Linked DNA regions of Homo sapiens. The protein of the gene in region 1 purifies or fractionates together with the protein of each later gene. This does not show direct contact. Each region holds a gene or a part of one and is shown on either strand. Other genes may lie near its edges.

Evidence for each region. Proteins that work in one complex are often made in the same cells at the same time.
Region 2: the proteins of TRO (region 1) and NBEAL2 purify together in Homo sapiens (tandem affinity purification; one large-scale study listed by IntAct). This does not show direct contact.

The regions. Positions count from the first base shown.
Region 1 is NC_000023.11:54,923,688-54,929,090, reverse strand, and holds part of TRO (trophinin), read right to left. Parts: coding exon 5,323-5,403; intron 4,641-5,322; coding exon 4,536-4,640; intron 4,422-4,535; coding exon 4,358-4,421; intron 4,103-4,357; coding exon 4,023-4,102; intron 3,500-4,022; coding exon 3,408-3,499; intron 2,682-3,407; coding exon 2,602-2,681; intron 2,509-2,601; coding exon 2,466-2,508; intron 2,049-2,465; coding exon 1,986-2,048; intron 1,787-1,985; exon of another isoform or gene 1,656-1,786; intron 1,425-1,655; coding exon 1,310-1,424; intron 489-1,309; coding exon 1-488. UniProt on the Homo sapiens protein: Could be involved with bystin and tastin in a cell adhesion molecule complex that mediates an initial attachment of the blastocyst to uterine epithelial cells at the time of the embryo implantation. Directly responsible for homophilic cell adhesion.
Region 2 is NC_000003.12:46,982,666-46,987,116, reverse strand, and holds part of NBEAL2 (neurobeachin-like protein 2), read right to left. Parts: intron 1-4,451. UniProt on the Homo sapiens protein: Probably involved in thrombopoiesis. Plays a role in the development or secretion of alpha-granules, that contain several growth factors important for platelet biogenesis.

The DNA.
Region 1 (5,403 bases):
CTGCTGAAGCTGGAGCTAGTGCTCAGTGTACCACCAAAGCTAATGCTGGCTGTATTGCTGAAGCTGGCACTGGTGCTGGGTGCAACACCAAAGGTAATGCCAGGTCCACCACTGAAGCCACCACTGGAGCTGGGTGCACCATTGAAGCTAATACTAGCACCATCGCTGAAGCCAGCCCTGGTACTAGCTCCTCTGCTGAAGTTGACGTTGGTGCTGGCATCTGCATTTTCTTGGGCTCTGGCCTCAATTTCAAATGAAAATCTGCTCCAGGCCTGAGCATCATCGCCTAACTCTTCCCTTGTTAGGCAGTCGATATCCATGTCATCCCAATTCCAGGGCCCAGCCACAGCTTCCTCTCCAATCCCCATTTGGGCTCTTGCCTCAGCCCTGGCTTCAGCCTCAGCCACAGCCACAGCTGCAGCTTGGACTTCCATCTCCACTGCCTCGCGGTACTGCACAGCCCAGTCCTTGGGGTCTTTCTTCTGCACCTGAAATGGGGATGATAATCATAATAAGAAAACAACCCTAGTAATCATGTATTAACCTACGGGCTTTGTATTAAACTAGTAGCAATACTTTTTTAAACTTCTCAGTTATTGGGGCTCTATCATGGGTCAGTTCTGAACTCCAGTTTCAGCTCTGCTGACTTACGTGCTATATGACCTTGGACAAGTTACTTAACCTCACTTAGCCTAAGTGTCTTTATAATTACAGGAAATGATAGAGCGTAAATATGTTATGAACTGAAGGGTTGTGCCCGCCCCCAAATTCGTATGTTGAATCCCTAACACCCAGTGTGATTGTACTTGGAGATAGGGCCTTTATGGAGATAATTAAGGTTAAATGAGGCCATAAGGGTGGGGTCCTGATCAACAGGATTAGTGTCCTTATAAGAAGAGACACCAGAAAGCTTGCTCTCTTCTCTCTCACACACAAAGCCATGTGAGGACACAGCAAGAAGGCAGCCATCTGCAAGCCAGGAAGAGAGCCTTCAACAGGAACTGACCCTCGTGGACCCTGACCTAGGATTCTCGCCCTCAAGAACTATGAGAAAATAAATTTGTTTTTTAATCCACCCAGTCTATGGTATTTTGTTATGGCAGCCCATGCTGATTAATACAAAGTATGAAGAATGAATGAGATGATGTAAACTATATATCTAGCAGCACCCTGGGACATAAAGGAGGCTCCACATGTTTATATATGAGCTGCAGGCTGCTCTGTACCTGCCCATCCCTGTGCATTGCCTGCCCCAGCCAAGGGTATCCCATTGCCTTAATATGCCAAGCTCGGGCAGCTCTCCTCTTACCCTGCATGCAAACTTGAGGACTTTCATCTTGCTAGTCTCGTGGTAGGAGCGCAAGCCCCAGAAGAACTCATATTCAGGTGGTCTGCTGTTAGGGACCCTCTTGTACTCCAGGTACCTTGGAAAAAGGAAATGAAACTTGTTTCTAACCAAGCAACCCTGCTGTCTAAGCACTAGACACCAGGTGGCAACCTCCTCCAAACAAATACAAACAGCCCCTGGAGAGGGATTTCTAAGACCCTCCAGCCCCAGACTCACTACCAAACACAGTTTATGGTCTTGGCCTCCAATACTGAGCCATTTCCCACTGGCCCTGTGCAAAGCAGTCCCTTGGGCTTCTCCAGGGGAGACATGTATAGGGCATGATGTCACAGGAAGGCCAAAGTATCATGCCACCTGTGAGGAGTAAGCCCAGATTCCTGTTGGGTGTGTTGTAAACAGAGGAGCCATTCTTAAGGCCCTCTGCTCTGAGCGCACCCCACTGCAAGGGCCTTGTGTTGAGTCTGGCCCAGTCCTGGAAAGGTCTGCCCATGGGAATTTTAGACAGTATCAGTTCTAGGACACAGGATGCCCATCCCTCTAAAGCTAGTATAAGAAAGGCACTGACTAAGCACTTTCTGAACCAGATCAGTATACCCAGAACACTTCAGGGCCAGACAAAGCCCCAAACACCACTTACTTCTGCTTCACAAACTCGTCTGTGATGAGCTTCCTCACTTCCCCAAAGAGTGAATGCCTCACCCTGACAATGGGAAAAATAACCCATGAACACAGATCAGAACTGCCCAGATGAGGGCAGAGGCATTTCCCAACATGGAAGAGACCTCTCTAGCACATGGGGCAGTCTCAATGAAGTGAAGAAAGTAATGAGCACATGGCCACTAGAAGCAAGCAGTTAAGACCAGATGCCTCTTTGTCAGGGATCCCTGAAGGTCTATCTAACATCTCAGCTTAGAACAGACAGAGGACATTAAGGAGAGAGACAGCAGAGAGTTCAGGACCATTTGCCCGTCATCCACCCAGGTCAGAACCCTGGGCCCTCTACCCAGTCCAGCACCCCACCCGCTCCACCAGACCACCAGACTGATGCAATCCTAGGACCATCCTCTCTTGCCAAAGGACAACACGGACAGCAAGCGCTGAGAGAGCCCAGTCATACCCAGGGCGCAGCCCCAACTTGCGCAGCACCTCCCAGATGACAGCTGTGAGGGGAGGCAAGAGGAGACAGGGACAGAAATTGAACACATGGAATCCAGACCATGGCCGCCCATTCAGCTGCATGCCCAGCCACTCACCCTCACTGGCCTTGTTGCCATTCATAAAAATGACACTCAGAATCACCATGAGGAGACCCAGCTTGGGTGTGTCCTTGGTCCTAAGGGAATAACAGGACAGAAAGAAGGTTTATGTTTCAACAGGACAGAAAGAAGGTTTATGTTTCAGCAGCCATCCGCAAAAGATACACCAGCCAGCTCACCAGGCTAACCTCTCCCAGATTCCTCAGATACAGAATTCTGCCCAGTCTCTGCTTCCAGCTCTATGCCACCCTGGGCAAGGCACTTAGACCTTGCAAGCCTTGGTCTATTATTCAGTAAAATGGGAAAATCATATTCTCCCTTCCTCAGGTTGCCAAGAAGATGGAAGAATGGCTGTCAACCTGGTACAACACAAGCACTCAGTCAATGTGAGTCCCTTCTTTCTCTCCCAGAACCTTCAGCCCCACTGACACTCTTGCGCTTCATGCATACTGATCCAGCCACACCAGGAAGCCCTCCTTGAGAACCACTCTGTCAAAGCCAGGCCAGGCACTCCATCGGAAGAGGCAAGCAATGACAGGCCTGCTTTCCTGGGAAGCTTCTACAGAGACAGCAAACCTGACAGCAGGAATGTCCCACCCTAGGCTCCTATACCCTTCAGTCAATCATAATCAGGTGCCACTACTGTGAGCAGGGCTCCAACTATGTGCAGGTGCTGAGACAGGGCTTTTGAGACCCTGTTTTTCCTGACTCTCTAAGAGGATGGGGGAAGTAGGACAAAGAAGGGGTAGCAGCACAGATAAAAGCAGAAGCTTCCTTCCCACTCCAGCCCTTTCCCAGCTTACGTTCCCAGTATGCCTGCAGAGGATTCCTGAGTGCTGATGAGAATATACAAGCTACTTTGCTTATCAATTTCTTTCAGATTGACTCGAAACATCTGCCAAGTAAAAGAATAGCCTGTGAGATCACAAAATTCAGCTTAGGTATCAGTGAACTTTCCGGGCATCCTAAAACTCCCAGTGTACTTAGGGGGTCTGCATGTGTAAGAAGTCAGTGAGATAATGCACATAAAGCACATAGCCAAGTGCCTGGCACCCAGTAAACACACAGCAAATGTACTATTGTCATCAACATCATCTTTGTGATGAGCAGGAATCTAGGGAGACAGAAAATGGGGATACAAGGGAGAGGTGAGATCTGAAATACATGCAGAATATGTCCAACTATGAATAGAAGCTGAGACTAATTTGAGTGGCTTCTGTCCTAGCCATGTTTTCATCACTGACATGCTGTGTGACCCATGGCAAATCTACACCTCTCCCTAGGCCACTGTCTGCCCATTCACACAGTAATGGGGCTGGATTAGCATGTTTCTGTGATTCTCTCCAAAAGGGACATGTATGTCTTTGCTCGATTCAAAGCTTCCCCATTGCGCCCATCCGCCAGCACTGCCCCTTCACCTTCTCCAGAGTGTAGCTTGCTCGTTCAATGATTTCTGGGAAATATTCATCATATTCTTGGATGACATCCCTCAGCATGTCTGTAGAAAAGGAGAGGTGAGAGTAGCTGAGCTTAGCAGGGGCCACAGAGCTGCAGCCCTTTTGCCAGTCCTGTTGGGTCAGTGCAATCAGAGACCTGAAGTGAGTTAATGGGAGATGCCAGCCATGGCAGAGTGCAAGGAGGGCAGGTGTGGAGATATGACAGAACAAAGAGGCCATAAAGTGTTACTCCCAGACTATGGGAGGAGAGGGGAGTGGAGAGGAGAGCTCAAGGAGGAGGGTTGGTAGGACACTACCTGAGCGTTTGATGGGGATCTTTGTCTGGTCCTTAACCAACAGGTATTTCACCAACTTATTAGCCTGGGAGGAGAGGAATAGATGGAGAGATCTTAACATGCTTGCAGAAAACTTGGAAGGAGGCAGAGAAGAGGGCAAGTGAAGAAGAGAAGAGACTGGACAGCATTGGATTCTTACCCTTTCTTGTAAAATGGCCACATCTCGCGGTGGTGCAGGCCTCCGGCCCCATGGGATCCGCCTGTAATTACTGCCACTTCTCTCATCCCCATTCAGATGCTTGGACTTCATCATCAGAAAGAAGGAAGGTCCAGAGTCACCAGGTGAAAGAGATGGCTCTGTCTCCTCACCTTGCCTGCTCCAGACAGAAAGTCCCTCTAACCCCCTCCCTCAGCCTTGCTGTAGTGGAGCCTGATCCTGACCTTGCCATTGGCCACCCTGAGTCCTGAGCTTATCTTTCACTGTCTTCCAGGAAGGAGTTTCGTTCCTCTGCCAGGCCAGGAACAACTCAAGATAAGAGCCTAAGGGTCTTTCTCTTCCTCTGGCTACCACCAATTATGCTGGCTGGTACCTCTTGGACAAGTCACTTCATTTCTCTGAGACTCAGTTTTCTTAAGTGTAAAACTGGGACCTATGATCCCTTGTTGGTAAGAGTTACTTTCAAGACATTCAGACATACCCTGTGTAACTGTACCCAACACAAAGCCTGGCACGTGGTAACTACTATTTAAATACAAGTAGTATTACATACAGGTTGTAGCTGAGTGTATGGATGTCTTATTTCCTCACCAATCTGTGAACTGCTAGGGAGCAGAAACTATATCACCTTCTTCTCAGCATCTTCCACAGCCTATCTGAACACAGGGACTAGCTCAAAGTAAAACTTTTATAGAAGAAATGAACAAACTAGAAGGGTAGAAATGGAAAAGAAGCACAAAGTTAAGGATGGCAATGTCAGAGATCTCACCTTTCGGTTTCTTTTGCCCCGGGTCCTGGTTGTGGGCTCCAGGCTCAACTGAGCCAGATAGTCATCTGCCAGGGCCTGGAC
Region 2 (4,451 bases), on another chromosome or scaffold:
AGCCGTCCACCCTGTGATTGGGGAACTCCCTGGTACAGTTTAGTGCAGATCTGAAGCCCAGACAACTCAGAGAGGTGCCAGGGCCACCATGGTGCAGACCCACACAACCATGACATTTTGTCTGTCAGTTACATTTATTGACCTCTCCACCCTCTCCTGCTGGCAGCCTCCTCCCGAACAATCAGCAAGGAGCCCAAAATACCCAGATCCTGAGACAGCAGAGGTGGCCAGGGGCCCTGGACCATTTCTTCTGAACCTCTCCCATTGCAGATGGGGAAACAGGAGGCCCCACAGGGGATGCCTTATCTACTACTTTGTCTTCAGTGTACCTTTGAGGATGCTAAAAGCCAGACCTTAGTTCTAGGCCAGGACCACTCATGATTGCTAGCAAGCCAGCCCATGAGGACCATGCGGGCCCCGATCCTTGCCTCAGTGGCCCCACAGAGACCCCTAGCTGCCTTCAAAAATGTCCCAATACTGTCTTCCTCTCTTCTGCCCCTCAGTCAAGCTAGTCACTCAAAATGTGAGTCTTCCTGCCAGCTGCAGCTCTACTGAGCACCTGAAAGCCCAAATTTGACCGTGTCTAACCCCTCCCCATAAAGGCTCAACTGCTGAGCAGCATTCCAGGCTGCTGGTCCAACCAGAACCTGCTTCTCCAGCTTCCACCTCTCCCCCTCTGTGGTTCACATCCTCCTATCCAGGCCTTTTCCCACCCTATGCCCCACTGCCTTGTGTGACTTGGGCTTTTGGTACTTGAGCAGGAACCTCCCACCCTCCTGGTGGCCATCACCTTGATCAGCCTTCCCAGCACAGGGGTGGGTCCCTCAATCTCTACATACTCCTAGAGTATGTAGATAGTACTTTCTGTCCCTAGAACCACACCCTTGGCCTGTCCAGTCCTGTAAACTTTCAGCAGATTGGGCTGAGCTGGGTTCAGGGCTGGGACAATCAAGACAGCCTTCAGGGGCTCTGAAAGGGGATGACGAGGTCTCCAAAGCACAGTATTAGGCAGGGGTGGGGTGGCTGCCTGTCCTGCCTCCCTGGGTCTCACTGTTTCTCCCTGGAAGACCTCAGGCCAACTCTGACCTAGGCCCCATGGCTTGAGACTGCAATGTGTCGGGGTACGGGAGTCCCTCAGGGAGCCAGGGTCAGAGGGCAGAGAATGGCAGGGGACGAGAGCATGGTGGCAGTGCTGCATGTGAGGGTCCAGGGCCTGGGAGGAGTGGCCATGATGCTCAGGCTTCCCATGCCCCTCTCAGAGCTTCTGCCTTGGTCGGTTGTGCCAGCTCTGAGCAGGAACACGGGTCAGGGACAGTCCAGCCCCTTGCCCCAACCTAACTGGGTCAGGGCCCCAACCCTGTCCCCCACTGAAGGCAGGTCGGGAGCAGCCACACCTGCCAAGCCCTCTCCAGGGTCCATAGGTAAGTGATGCCCAGGTCCTGCAGCAGGGGAGAAGGTTGTGGGAATGTGGAAGGCCGGTGTCCCTGGGAAGAGGGGGTCTCATGTGCACCACCACAGAGACCCCAACTTATGCCCAACTAGCTGTGAGGGCACTTGAGAGTGCTGGGGGTGAGGGGCTCCCGAGGGCTGCTTAGGCTCAAACAGTCCCTGGGTGGGCATGGAACTGCCACTCCTCTGGAATTCTGAAGTAACCTGGAGGGCTGAGGGCTGGTGGTTGTGACATTGGTGGGGAGTACAGGGAGTACACCTTGTTTGCCAAGCTGACAGGGATCATTGAGCTGCCTGACACCATGCTGCTCCCAGACCCTGCCTGACGTACCCCAAGGCCATTGCACAATGGGCCTCGAGTAGACATCTGTCACCATCACGGCTTGATCAGCCAGTCACATGCCCTATCACAAGCTCACATCTGAGGCCCTGTAGGGTGGTGCCCACCTCACCTGCAGCCTCCATACCCCAAACCCGCTGGATGCCTGGGCCCAAGGGCGTGAATCACTGTCTCTACCCCCACAGGTCTGCCTGTGCTTTGCTCTTGTTTGCTCTGCTGGAATGCCCCCATCAGGGGCATCAGCACCCTTTGTAAGACCCATTCCTGTCTGGTGCCTCTCACCAACCGAATCAGGTGAGGGCATGGGTTCCGGAGTCCAGTCCCCGTTCTAACTCTCAGTAGCTTGTTACTTAACATTAACCTCTTTAAAACCATCCCTTTGCTTCTTGGGTAAAAGTTCTCCAGCCACACCTACCCAACTCGAGGTCAGGGTAAGGTGAGTGGAGTTCCAGATCCAGGGGCTCTGGCCTGCCCGAGCTCCCTGAATTCCAGGCAACAACCCCCAGCCCCCTCTGTGAGTGACAGTAAGAGGCATTAATGGACCCCAGGGAAGAGCTAGGAGCAGGAAGGGAGAGAAGAGCACAGCTCAAGAGTGGGTGACTCCTCTCAGTCAGAGCTGCCTGGGCGGTAGTGAGCACTCCATCTTCAGGGACAGACAAGCAGAAGTGGGACAGGGTGGTGTTTATGTGGAATAGCCTATCCCAGGCCTAGGGGGTCCCCCCATTCAGTATCAGGACGGGGAGGACAATGTCAAGCTAAACGTGACTTCTGGCTACATCACCAGGACTGGAGGTCAGGCTTGGAGGATGTTAGGCCATGGGATGAAGCAGGAAGATGGGACTTTGCTGGGGCAGGGACAACTGAGGATAGTGGTTTGAGTGCCTGGGTGGCTGGGCCAGTCTCTCCCACTTACCTGGAGAGGGGGTGCTGAAAGGGTGGACCTTCTGATCTCCATGACACCCACCCTGCCCCAGGGCCTGACCATCCCCTTGTACTATTGTTTTTTTTGTTTTTTTTTGAGACGGAGTCTCGCTCTGTCGCCGGCCCAGGCTGGAGTGCAGTGGCGCGATCTCAACTCACTGCAAGCTCCGCCTCCCAGGTTCACACCATTCTCCTGCCTCAGCCTCCTGAGTAGCTGGGACTACAGGCACTCGCCATCACGCCTGGCTAATTTTTTTTTTTTTTTTTTTTAGTAGAGATGGGGTTTCACTGTGTTAGCCAGGATGGTCTTGATCTCCTGACCTCGTGATCTGCCCGCCTCAGCCTCCCAAAGTGCTGGGATTACAGGCGTGAAACACCGCGCCTGGACACTATTTTTTTTTAAGCAAGGAAAGCATAGATTTATTGAAATGAAAGTACACTCCACAGAATGGAAGTAGGTTCAAGCAAGCGGCTCAAGAGCTGACCAATCCCTTTTACTATCACTAAGGAAAATGGGAATTTCCTTCTAGGGTCCCCATAGACCCCATGGTAACTGACCCTGTTTCTACGGGGACCCCACACTTCCCCATCAGCTCCCCAGTTGTCATAACAACTCCAGGAATCACCAGTGCCCACCCAAGCCTGGGCTGTGTGCTCATCTCCCTATCACTACAGGCCCTTCTCCTTCAGGTGCCTTGGTAATAGAGGCAGGGGACCAAGCACCAAAGAAGTGACTCCACCTTCCCTTTACCCATTTCAGGAAGGTAAACTGAAGCCCAAAAAGGATATGACCAGATAAAGCCAGGTGCGGTGGCTCACGCTTGTAATCCCAGCACTTTGGGAGGCTGAGGCGGGCAGATCACAAGGTCAGGAGTTTGAGAGCAGCCTAGCCAACATAGTGAAACCCCGTCTCTACTAAAAATACAAAAATTAGCCGGGTGTGGTGGCACACGCCTGTAGTCTGAGCTACTCGGGAGGCTGAGGTAGGAGAACTGCTTGAACCCGGGAGGCAGAGGTTGCAGTGAACTGAGACCATGCCATTGCACTCCAGCCTGGGTGACAGAGTGAGACTCTGTCTAAAAAAAAAAAAAAAAAGGAATATGACCAGGTAAAGTACCGGGGGAGTGGAGGGCCTGACCAGGTTTCTGAGAGGCAGTAGAGATCATCAGTTAGGGAGAGGGAACTCTCAGGGAAGTGTAGGCAGGACGAGGTTGCCTCCAGCCTGACCTAACCTCCCTGAACCCTTCTGAGGCCTCAGTGGCATAGCTGGACAGGTCAGCTTCTGCTCCCTCCTGTCACCTGAGGGTTTGTTCTGCCCTGAACTTTGTGACCCTGAGTGCCCTTCCACATTCAGTGCCCCCTCACTCTGTGACCCCATTCACTGGAGGGGTTGCTGAACATCACTGCTGCTCCGGCCTGAACAGGGGCCACTCATCTGCATGCTATGTGGCATTAACTTTTATGGGCTGCCCAACCGCCAGCCTGTCAGGTGCTGTCCCCAGTCCCCCAAGACTCTCCTGCCCTTCCTATGCCTACCCTGGGGGAGCTCTGGTGGGCTCTGAGTCCTCTAGATGAGCCCCCACCTGTCCACCAGGCCTGCTTGACTAGCTCTGCCCTGCCCCAACTCCTGACAATTTGCTTCTTGTCCCACTGCTCCTGCTGTTTCTTCCTCTCAGCCTTCAAAGCCCAAACTCAGCCTCCTCTGGGGTGACTTCCTGACTGGTCACTGCCATGGGACCCA